Linked DNA regions of Homo sapiens. The protein of the gene in region 3 purifies or fractionates together with the protein of the main gene of each other region. This does not show direct contact. Each region holds a gene or a part of one and is shown on either strand. Other genes may lie near its edges.

Region 1 (3,750 bases), on a different chromosome or scaffold from region 3:
GGTATAATTCAAGCTCTGATTGTTTATGTTTATATTTCTAGCCATGCAAGTTTCTGCTAGATGCTGTGTTTGCTAAAGGAATGACTGTACGGCAATCAAAAGAGGAATTAATTCCTCAGCTCAGGGAGCAATGTGGTTTAGAGCTCAGTATTGACAGGTAAAGTAAAATTAATGTCATCAGCGATTTGAAGAAAGACTATGTGGTCAGTTGAAATGGACTGGTATGATTTTCTAAAACTAGGAGAATTAAAATTTCCTGTGCTATTCAGAATTTTAGTATGACAGATTAGTTTAATAGGACTAAACAAGAGTATTAAAATTTTGTTTGGATTTCCTATACAGAATTCTAAATTTGAATTACTGGAAACATTTCTTTATTTCCCCAGATTTTAACAACTCATTATTTGACTTTTGTATTTGAACATAGTTCATTTTTCTTTGGTGTCAGATTAGTGTCAATCTTTAAATTGAGAGTTTCAAATTATAGTCGTTTTAAATGTCTTATCACATTTGTAGGTTTCGTCTAAGGAAAAAAACATGGAAGAATCCTGGCACTGTCTTTTTGGATTATCATATTTATGAAGAAGATATTAATATTTCCAGCAACTGGGAGGTTTTCCTTGAAGTTCTTGATGGTATTTTCAATATTTTTGGGGGGAAGTATCAGTTAGAAATACTCTAGAACTAATAGAAGCCTATAGTTTTTAATCAAATAATGAGTTACGAGGAATCTAATATACATTATAGTGTTTTGTGTTATATTAAGCATAACGATATCCTTATTATGGATTGATGTGATTCCTACCTACGTCTTATCCTTGGGAGTTTTATTTTCTTCCCCTGTGTCCTAATGTAACTGCTTAAGTTGTTTTTGAAAGAATAATCAGTGTCTTTCAGCCTTCTGCTATCTTTCTCTGGTTCCCATTTGCCTTTTAAGTATTCTTTTTTTGAATGTTGAGAATATTAATTCCCCCTTATGAGGAAATTACAAAGTTAGGTTTTTAATACATTTTAAGAAAACTCTGCTAATATTTTCTTAGCCACGTTTGTTCTTTAGTTTCTTTTTTACTATTATGGCTTATTTTGTATTGAAGACATGGTACTGATAATTTATCAGAGACTCAAGAACAATGACTATTTGTGTCCTAAGCCAGGTGGCTTAAAGAATAGAAGTGTATTGTCTCACAATCTGAGATCAGGCTGTCAACAGGGTTGGTTCCTTCTGAGTGCTGTGGGGGAGAATCTGTTCCATACTCTCTCCTAGCTTCTGTGGTTTTTGGCCATCATTGGCAACCTTGGCTTGTAGATACATCACCCCAGTCTCTGCCTTCATCTTCATGTGGTGTTCTTTCTGTGGGCTTGTCTGTCTGTATTGTTTTCCCCTTTTTCATAAACCACTAGTCCTATTGTATTAGGGCCCACCCTGAAGACCTTATTTTACTTTGAGTATCACTGGAAAGACCCTATTTCCAAATAAGGTCACATTCTGAGGTACTAGGGATTAGGATTTCAAAATGTCTTTTTGTGGGGGGCACAATTCAACCCATAGCAGTGACCTTGAGGAGGTCCAAGTAGCAGACATACTTGTCACACCTCCCAGTTTTCGTTATCAACATTGGCACATTTAAAGTATTGGTGTTTGGAGGGAGGCTTATAGGAGGAAAGTTGGCTTTTAGAAGATCACATCAAGGTAAACAACTAGTTCTATATTCTTTTTTTGCTGTTGCTTAGGAAAATTTTAATTTTCCTTTTCTTCTGTAGAAAGTAAAATATGAATTCTGGATATTTTGTTACAAGATTATCCTAGTTTTTAGAGAGCTCAATAATACTAACACCTCATGTATTTCAGGCTGCTTCAGGTCTAATTCAACCATAAATTTAAATGGTTGAAATTCTGATTAATTGACAAGTTAAGTTGGGAGGTAAGGAACAACTAGGATACCATCTACTATGGTGTGTAGGCAAGTGCTCCAGATTGTGATTTCTTTGAGTATCTGGGGTCGTAGGGAATAATCACTGTGCCTGGGTAAGTCAGGAAGAGATCATAAATGACAAAGAAGTCACCCTTGTAAGGATTGAGTATGTATTAGCAGAGATGGATTCATCTGAAAATGGTACTAGATGGTGGGTGCCTGCATCAGTATTATTTCAGTATATTTTCACATCAAGATAGTTGAGTAAGAAATGTCATGTGATTAAATCCAAGAGGTATTTATTGACCTGTAATTTGCCAGACACTGCTAATCCCTTGTGCTACAAAAATGAGTAAGAACCACTTATTGGTGCACACAGTCTGTGGAAGAAACAGAACTGCAAACCTGTCATTCTAAAATAATAGGTACTAAGGGACTGAATCAGTAGAAGTTCTTCTTGTGTACACCAGAGAAAAGTGACAATTGAGTTGATGCTTGAAAAGTGACAATTGAGTTGATGCTTGAAAAGTGACATAATGGAAAAGTGACAATTTTGAAGAATCACTAAATTGGGGAGTAAATGGAAAGAGAAGGATTAATAATAGCTTTAGTGAAAAAAGAGGATAAAGTGAAGTTGATTTGTTTATGATTTTAGATAGGGATAGGAGCCAATAGAGAAACAAAGATTGGAAATCCAGAGAAGAGAGTAATTGGTAATGCAGTGTTCAACAGGAGTCAGGAGGGAGTGGAATTAGGAGTACTGGTTTGAAGAAGAGAGGAATTATCTTCTGAGACTGGAGAGAAGAGAGTAAATATTTCATTCTCAAAAACTCCTTGGGATAATTGGGTTTTTTCTTGTGCCCACTTTTTAAGAGTAACACTTGAAGTAAATCTTTTTGTTTAGTAAGGCACTAAGGGAAAAGTCAAATTATGAACCTTCAGAGGAAATAGAATGATGACCTAATCTTGCATATTCTTAGGGGTAGAGAAGATGAAGTCCATGTCACAGCTTGCAGTTTTGTCAAGACGGTGGAAGCCTTCAGAGATGAAGTTGGATCCCTTCCAGGAGGTTGTATTGGAAAGCAGTAGTGTGGACGAATTGCGAGAGAAGGTAAGTTCATTTTAAACAAAACATGTATCTTATGTTGTATATGTATATCATAATATTAATAAAATATATAATATATAAACAATACATTCTTCCTGTGTTGCGTAAGAGAAAACCTAGGAAGTAGTACCAAACACTGGTGCAGCAACCTTTCTTTTTGGTTTCTGTCACACCTTGTGGCACACTCTGGTTGTTCAGGCTCCTGATTCTTTGAAAAATTACTTTGGCTCCTGGCCATTCAGAAGTGGATCCTCACTTTCTGTTACTTGGACCAATTTTGTCCTAAGTAGTTAGAATTAGTTAGAAGTTACTAGAGTGAATTGCTTTATGTCTAAAAAAAACCAAATGAAGTCGAATTGTGTAGAGAATCCAGATGAAGGTCTGTTTTGCATTTTAAGATGGGATATCTAAGGATCTCTGGGGAAAGGGTGAATTAGTCAATCTGTGGTACTAGCACAATGAGCATTTTGAAAAAGATTTATTTCCATACTTCATACTAAACACAAAAATAAATTCTAAATGTATTAAGTTTATATATAAAAAAAGTAAATGTACTAGGTGAAAATATGTAAAATATTAAATACTAAAAATATTTTCATATTCCTGGAAAAAGATATTTGTAAGCATAATACCAGAAGCCAAAAAAAGAAACTATAGACCACGTAAAAACCTATCCTCTGCATAGCCAAAGAAAAAGGTATTTAAAAAGCAACTCATAAACAAAGCTAA
Region 2 (3,750 bases), on a different chromosome or scaffold from region 3:
CCCACCCAGGCCAGGCCAGTCAGGGATCTGGCCCAGGGAAGGAGGGGAGGAACCAGCCAGGCCGGAGGAAGTGTCAGCGCAGCCCTTCTGTCCACCCAGGTGTGGGACAGGCACTGGCCTCAGACCGGGGCCACACTGAGGTCTGCCCTTCTCCCGCTGGCCGCCACCCAAGACACCATGAGCCAGTCCGGGGCCGTGAGCTGCTGCCCGGGTGCCACCAAGTGAGCCCTCCCACCCATCCCGAATACCCCACCCTCACCCTCTGAACAGTCCCCAGGGAGGGGTGCAGTTTGGCCCTGCCCTGACAGCCCCTCCCCTGCAGTGGCAGCCTGGGCCGGTCCGACGGTGTGGCCAAGATGAGCCCCAAGGACCTGTTTGGTGAGTGAGGTTTGAGAACGGGCTGGACGTCACAGGGGAGAAATGGGCACTGCATCCAGGTGGGGGACAGCTGCTCCTGCCCCACAGCTGTGCCTGGTCTGGCCCAGGGGATCTCCGGGTGCCCAGGGAGGCCTCTGGACCCTAATCAACCTTCCGAAAGCTCCTGGCCACTGGATCCCCTCCCCCACACCCGTAAGGGGAGAGGCCTTTACTAATAATTCAGGGAGCATCAATATTGATTCCGCTGCACTCATTGCTGTAACCTGATCACAGCGAGGTTCAGGCAGGATAAGCCGCCAGGTGTCTGCTCCAGGAGGGGGGCCTGGCCAGCCCCCACCTCCCCCCACTCTGCCCTTCCCCAGAGACGACCCTGCCCTCTCGCTAGCTAGATGCACCCTTCACTTATGTCTTTGGACAAGGTGCCTAGTCTGGAAAGCGAGAAGACCTGGGAGGGCAGGGAGAGTGAAGCTGGCAGCTCTCAGAGTGGGAAGAAGCCGGGCTGGGACCCCCTTCCTGTCCCCTCACCCTCCGGGACAGAAACCCCCCGGGCACAGGCTGCTGGTCCCCACTCCACTCAGAGCAAGCCCATCGCCTTCTCCGAGCTGCGTCCTTCTCCAAGGGGGCTTCCCTGGAGGGAGGGAGGGGGCTTCCTGCAGGTCCTGATTTCACACCCACATCCTTCCTGGTGGCCAAGAGGTCCACGGAGCAGCCTCCCTCCGCTTGACTCCACCTTCCCTTGTGGGTCCAGTCCCAACTGGACGGGAGGCTGTGGGTCCTGCCCGTCGGGGGAGTGACTGGTGTCTCCCGGTTCAGAGCAGAGGAAGAAGTATTCCAACTCCAACGTCATCATGCACGAGACCTCGCAGTACCACGTCCAGGTAAGGCCCCGCCCCCAGGTAGGCTCCGCCCCCAGGGAGCACCCTCAGGACATGGCTGTCCTCAGGTTCTCGTCTCCACAAAAAATAAAATAATTAGACGGGCATGGTGGTGCCGGCCTGTAGGCCCTGCTACTGGGGAGGCTGAGGCGAGGGGGTCACTTGAGCCCGGGAGGCGGAGGCTGTAGTGAGCCAAGATCGCACCACTGCACTCCAGCCTGGGCACCTGGGTGACAGAGCTAGACCCTGTCTCAAAACGAAAGAGAGAAAGAGAGAAAGAGAGAAAGGGAGGAAGGGAGGAAGGGAGGAAAGCTCCAGGGAGAGTGGTCAGCCCAGCTTCTGACACCCACGGGGCCGGGGGAGGCCAGAGCCAGAACTGCCCACACTGTCCCGGGCTCAGCCACGGGGCCGGGGAAAGCGCCCCTCTGGTTCCAGTCCTGGGAACTCGCGGCCTGGGGGGTGAGGCAGCCCAGGGTGTGCCGGGAAAACACTGTGGCTGCTGCCCAGCCCTGGATGGGAAGAGCCCCTGGAGGAGATGATCATCCTGGCCCCAAAACGAGGAACTGTATCGGGAGGGAGCAGGCAGAACAAAGACGCCCTTGATGGGGGATTCAGGGAGGCCCGGGCTGCTTCTCAGGGCTCAGACGGGGCTGCCTGCACGCGCCGGACCAGCCGCCAGCCCTGAGGGCTTTTCTGTTCTCCTAGGTCAGTTTCATTGACACGGAGAACTCAGGAAATGTTTTTTTGGGGGGTTTTGTGTGCGTGTGTGCGTGTGTGCGTGCGTGCGTGTGTGTGTGTGTGTGTGTGTCTTTTTTTCTTCCTTTCTTTCTCTCTCTCTCTGTCTCTCTCTTTTCTTTTCTTTCTTTCATTTTGAGACAGGGTCTAGCTCTGTCACCCAGGTGCCCAGGCTGGAGTGCAGTGGTGCGATCTTGGCTCACTACAGCCTCCGCCTCCTGGACTCAAGTGATCCCCTCACCTCAGCCTCCCCAGTAGCTGGGCCTACAGGCTGGCCCCACCATGCCCATCTAATTATTTTATTTTTTTGTGGAGATGGAAGTCTCCCTATGTTGCCCAGGCTGGTCTCAAACTCCTAGGCTCAAGCAATCCTCCCCCCTCCTAGCCAGGCCTGGTAGTGTGAGCTCGTAGTCCAGCTACTTGGGAGGCTCAGGCAGGAGGATCCCACCACGGCCCTCCAGCAGCCTGGGCAACAGAGTCTTAGGCCAGGCGCGGTGGCTCACGCCTGTAATCCCAGCACTTTGGGAGGCTGAGGTGAGTGGATCATCTGAGGTTAGGAGTTTGAGACCAGCCTGACCAACATGGCAAAACCTCATGTCTACTGAAAATACAAAATTAGCCAGGCGTCGTGGTGCATACCTATAATCCCAGCTACTCGGGAGGCTGAGGCAGGAGAATCACTGGAACCCAGGAGGCGGAGGTTGCAGTGAGCCGAGATCACACCACTGCACTCCAGCATGGGCAACAGAGCGAGACTCCATCTCAAAAAAGAGAAAAAAAAAAGGGACCAGGCGCGGTTGTTCATACCTGTAATCCCAGCACTTTGGGAGGCCGAGGCGGGTGGATCACCTGACGTCAGGAGTTCGAGACCAGCCTGACCAACATGGTGAAACCCCATCTCTACTAAAACTACAAAACTTAGCTGGACGTGGTGGTGGGAGCCTGTAGTCCCAGCTACTTGGGAAGCTGAGACAGGAGAATCACTAGAACCCGGGAAATGGAGGTTGCAGTGAGCCGGGATTGCGCCACTGCACTCCAGCCTGGGGGACAGGGCGAGACTCCATCTCAAAAGGAAAAAAAAAAAGGCCCCTGCGCCTGGGTACGAGCTGGGCTCCCGGTTGTGGTCCAAGCCTGGGTGCGAGCTGGGCTCCCGGTTGTGGTCCAAGCCTGGGTGCGAGCTGGGCTCCCGGTTGTCGTCCAAGCCTGGGTGCGAGCTGGGCTCCCGGTTGTCGTCCAAGCCTGGGTGCGAGCTGGGCTCCCGGTTGTCGTCCAAGCCTGGGTGCGAGCTGGGCTTCCGGTTGTGGTCCAAGCCTACAGGACTAGGAAAAGGAGGGAGGGTGAGGGAGCCTGGAGCTGGGTCCTCCTGCAGGACCAGTCCTTTCTGCCACAAACAGCCCTGGCTGGGGGCCCAAAATGCCCCCTGGTTCCCCCTTGCTGTCCTCCACACCTGCAGAGGTGAGACAGGTCACTACTCTTTGAGCCTCAGTTTCCTCGTCTGTACAATGGGTCCAAAGAGCCATCAGGAGTCCCTGAGCTCTTGAATCGGGCTGTTTTGGGTGACCAGGGCCCTCCCAGCAGCCTGGGCAGCTAGACCCTGCATACAGCCAGGCTGGTGACTTCGGCCAGCTCAGTGTCCAGGGGAAGGCACAGAGCAGTGGCCGAGTTCACTTTAGTCCCCTCTTCCTGGGCAGCTCCACCACCTTTCTCAGGGACTCTGCCCTCTTCGGGAGGAGCCTGGGGCCTCTCAGCCTGGCTCCTGGAC
Region 3 (3,750 bases):
ACAAACTGATGAGGTTGAGTGCTATCTTGCCCTCATGTCGTAGCTAAGAAATCTAGAACTTGAGTGAACTAGGTAATGTCTTAGCCAGAAAGTGTCAGTGCTAGGACTCAAACCTAGCTCTTTTAGCTCTAAATCTACCATTTCCACTGTACTTCAGTAGTCTGTGTTATCGTCACAGTTATTACTACTATATTGTTATTACTACCAGGTTAATACTAGCTATCAATAGAATGGGTTACGTGGCTGAAAAAAAAAGGAAAAAAATTCACAACTGCAAAAAAAGTGTATAGACACTAATCATAGGCACAACATCTCAGACTACATCGGATTTCAGATAAGGTTAGTACTGATGCTAAGGTCTAATTTTTTAACTTTTATTAATGAATACCTTTTTTAAAATAGGTTTTTGTGTCATTATGGTTATTTGCCTAGTTTGATACAGAAAACATGACTCTTAGTCTAACTTAGTGTTGCTTAAACCTGAGTAACACCCAGACCACCTTTTCAAGGAGAAAAAAATTCTCATGGATCCCAGTGTTGTCTTTTTATATTACATATATATTTAAAATTACAAATAGATATGAAACTATGCTGATAAAAGAACTAGATTTAGACATTAAATAGAGATAACTTAAAAAAAAAACAATTGCAATGCCCATTAGGGGATCTTCTTAGATCCAATGAAATATTCAGTCTCACAAAACTCACAGACCACACGTGGCACCAGTCTACTTAAGGATGTAGGACGGCAACCACAGCTTCCCAGTGGATTTAAGTCAGGTCTTCCTTTTCTGTCAGAGTTCTCCCAGCACTGTTATCAGTCTACACCAAAGCTTTATCACCATTGGTGATTTTGTCCCCCAGAGGACATCTGGCAATGCCTGGAGACATTTTTGTTGTCCCTACCTAGGGAGTAGAAGGGGTAGTGGTTGCTATCGGTATCTAGTGGGGAGAGGCCAAAGATGCTGCTAAATTTTACAACCTGTAAGTCTTACAGTGCACAGGAAAGTGTCCCATAACAAAGAATCTCTAGCCCAAAATATCAGTAGTGCCATTCCCTGGGCTATACAGCTGACCAGGAACTAGCCTCTTAGCCTCCTCTTCAGTCACATCTCAGACAGGAGGAGATGAATGTCATAGTGAATGAGTGCAAGAGCCTTCTTGGCATTGGGCAGTGAGTCCAAGAGCCTTCTTGGCATTGGCGAGTGACTGTTAAACCCCCAGGGTTTCTTTGGTTGGGGGTGAAGAAAATGTTTTGGAATTAGTGATGGCTGCACAAGTTTATAAATATACTAAACCAAGGCAAGATGGCTCATGCCTGTAAGCCCAGCACTTTGGAAGGCCAAAGTGGGAGGATCACTTGAGGCCAGTAGTTCAAGACCAGCCTGGGCAACACAACAAGACTGTCTCTACTAAAAAAAAAAAAAAAAATTTTTTGCCAGGCATGGTGGTACAGCTACTCAAGAGGCTGAGGTTGGAGGATTGCTCGAGCCCAGGAGGTCAAGCCTGTAGTGAGCTATGATTGTGCTCCCTGTTGAGCAAAACCCTGTCTCTAAAAATATATATACACTAAACCCACTGAATTGTATGCTTTAAAAGGATGACTTTTATGACATATGAATTATACCTCAGTTAGATAAAGGAGAAGAAAAGGTTTCAGTAGCTTAAAAGCCCCGTTCCCTATAGGATCCAGTCTTTCTTATAATAATTCCATAAACATAGCTAGGTCCCTGCAAGGGACATCCTACTTACAAGACACTGCACTCAGGGAAGCCCCAAGATATGGTGTCCCCATCAGGTGTTTATAGTTCATTTATATATAGTTTAAGCTTAGATGCAATTTTATAAGTCATTTTTATAATGCTTGGTAACACAACTGACAATCTACCTTTAGCACATTTCCAGGGGTACAAAACTAGAAAGTGGAGCGTAAGTCAGTCTCAAACAAGGGATTTATTAAAACTTTACCCACACCAATAAAATTCAAACTAGCTACATTATTAATGTTTTGCTGAAATTACATTTCTACTCAAGCATAAATGGTGCTGTTGGGGAGTTTTTTAAAAAAAATGTAATGGCTTTACTGAGAAATAAGTAGTGTACAGTAAAGTGCACATAAAGTGTGTACTTTGATGAGTTTTGAGATGTCTACATCTGTGAAGTCATCCTACAATTAAAATAATCAATGTATCCATAACCCCTAAAGTTTCATCTTGTTCCTTTGCAATTCATGCTTCCTTGAGTATAAACACAGTAAAGTGCCCAAATAATCGTACAGCATGATAAATTTTTGCAAGGTCTATACATCCATGCAAAGAAGATCCAGATGAATCATTATCGCCACCCTAGAAGCTTCTCCTAGTGTCTGGTTCCAGTCACTCGCTCTGCAACTCTCTATAATCACTCTCCTGTTTAACAACACAATAGTTTTAACTGAATTATTACTTTAGAAATGAATTCTTTCATCTGGCTTTTATTCCACATGAGATTCATTCACATTGCTGTGAGTAGTTGATCATTCATTTCTCATTGCTGTAACATTTTTCTATTTTGGTATATTACCATTATACACTTAAGAACATTTTTTTTCATTACACAGCTTATGAGCATTTGGGTTCTTTCCAATCTTCCATTTCCATGTGTTCATTAGCCATGTGATACTCTATTATATGAAGTTTCTGTACAGTTTTTTGCTCATTTTTATCATATACGGGTCCTTTGTCAAATAACATATTGTGAATAGTCTCTCCCATTGTTTATTCACTCTTTAGTATGTTTTGATGAACAGAAGTTCTTAATATACTCTAATTTAAATTTTTATTATTTATGGTTACCACTTTTGTGAACTGCTTAGGAAACTGCCTACTCCACGGTCATGAAAATGTTTTTTTGCTGTTCACATTTAGATCTATAATGTATCTAGAATTGGTTTTTTGTGGGTGCGTATGGTGTGAAATAGGGATCAGGATACCTTTTCCCCCCACATGGAAATCCAACTGAATCCATGAGTATAGCAGGCTGCTTATATTCCTTGCTAAGTAGAGATGACTTAAGTGTTCTCATCATTTACCTGGATTCAAAATAGAGTGAAATTTTAGTTCATTCTCTGCGCTCTGCTATCACCCAGCTTTCTCTTGGCATAAACTTATCAATTCTGAATTTAGCTCAGTGCTAATGGTTCTAATTAGCCCCTGAAAATTATAAATGTACCAGGTGCTCATGTGATTCCAAACACAAATGCAAGTACAAGTATAGAAACCTTGTGATAGTACCTATTCATTTTGTTTTTTAGATCTTGTAATACATTATCTGCTTTGGCCAGCTGTTGTTAATAAAAACTTTATAGTCTCTCATTTAATTCCCACAATAACCACATGGGATAGGGTTTCATTTTGGTTATGTTAGTTGCAATGGACAGAGCACCATTCAAGTTAACCAATGGGAGGTTAATCATAAGGAGACACAAAAGTGGATCATTCTTAAGGAGTAAGGCAGCCAAGACCAGTCTCTCTCTGGGCATCTCTGCCTCTCGGGGCAGCTGCTTCTGCAGGCTTGTGCTTTCGCTCCCCCTGGGGAAGAGGGAAAGTAGTTGTCACATGGGATAAAACCTAACTAACGTTAAGGGCTGTGAGTTGAGTACTTCCCCTTTTGGAAGGGACTGTGGACTGGTGGGTTTGATGAAACATCTTATACAAGTCATTATAATGACCATTTTACAGATAAGTCAGACAGACTGTAGAAAAGGTCAGA

Evidence for each region.
Region 1: the proteins of ASTE1 (region 3) and USP47 purify together in Homo sapiens (affinity purification with mass spectrometry; 2 studies listed by BioGRID and IntAct, with this or other methods). This does not show direct contact.
Region 2: the proteins of ASTE1 (region 3) and EPS8L2 purify together in Homo sapiens (affinity purification with mass spectrometry; 2 studies listed by BioGRID and IntAct, with this or other methods). This does not show direct contact.

Annotation. Positions count from the first base shown.
Region 1 is NC_000011.10:11,949,848-11,953,597, forward strand, and holds part of USP47 (ubiquitin carboxyl-terminal hydrolase 47), read left to right. Parts: intron 1-41; coding exon 42-157; intron 158-516; coding exon 517-635; intron 636-2,893; coding exon 2,894-3,024; intron 3,025-3,750. UniProt on the Homo sapiens protein: Ubiquitin-specific protease that specifically deubiquitinates monoubiquitinated DNA polymerase beta (POLB), stabilizing POLB thereby playing a role in base-excision repair (BER). Acts as a regulator of cell growth and genome integrity.
Region 2 is NC_000011.10:709,231-712,980, forward strand, and holds part of EPS8L2 (epidermal growth factor receptor kinase substrate 8-like protein 2), read left to right. Parts: intron 1-99; 5' UTR 100-177; coding exon 178-221; intron 222-322; coding exon 323-378; intron 379-1,191; coding exon 1,192-1,256; intron 1,257-3,750. UniProt on the Homo sapiens protein: Stimulates guanine exchange activity of SOS1. May play a role in membrane ruffling and remodeling of the actin cytoskeleton. In the cochlea, is required for stereocilia maintenance in adult hair cells.
Region 3 is NC_000003.12:131,020,169-131,023,918, reverse strand, and holds part of ASTE1 (single-strand DNA endonuclease ASTE1), read left to right. Parts: intron 1-3,750. UniProt on the Homo sapiens protein: Structure-specific DNA endonuclease that specifically cleaves single-stranded DNA and 3' overhang DNA.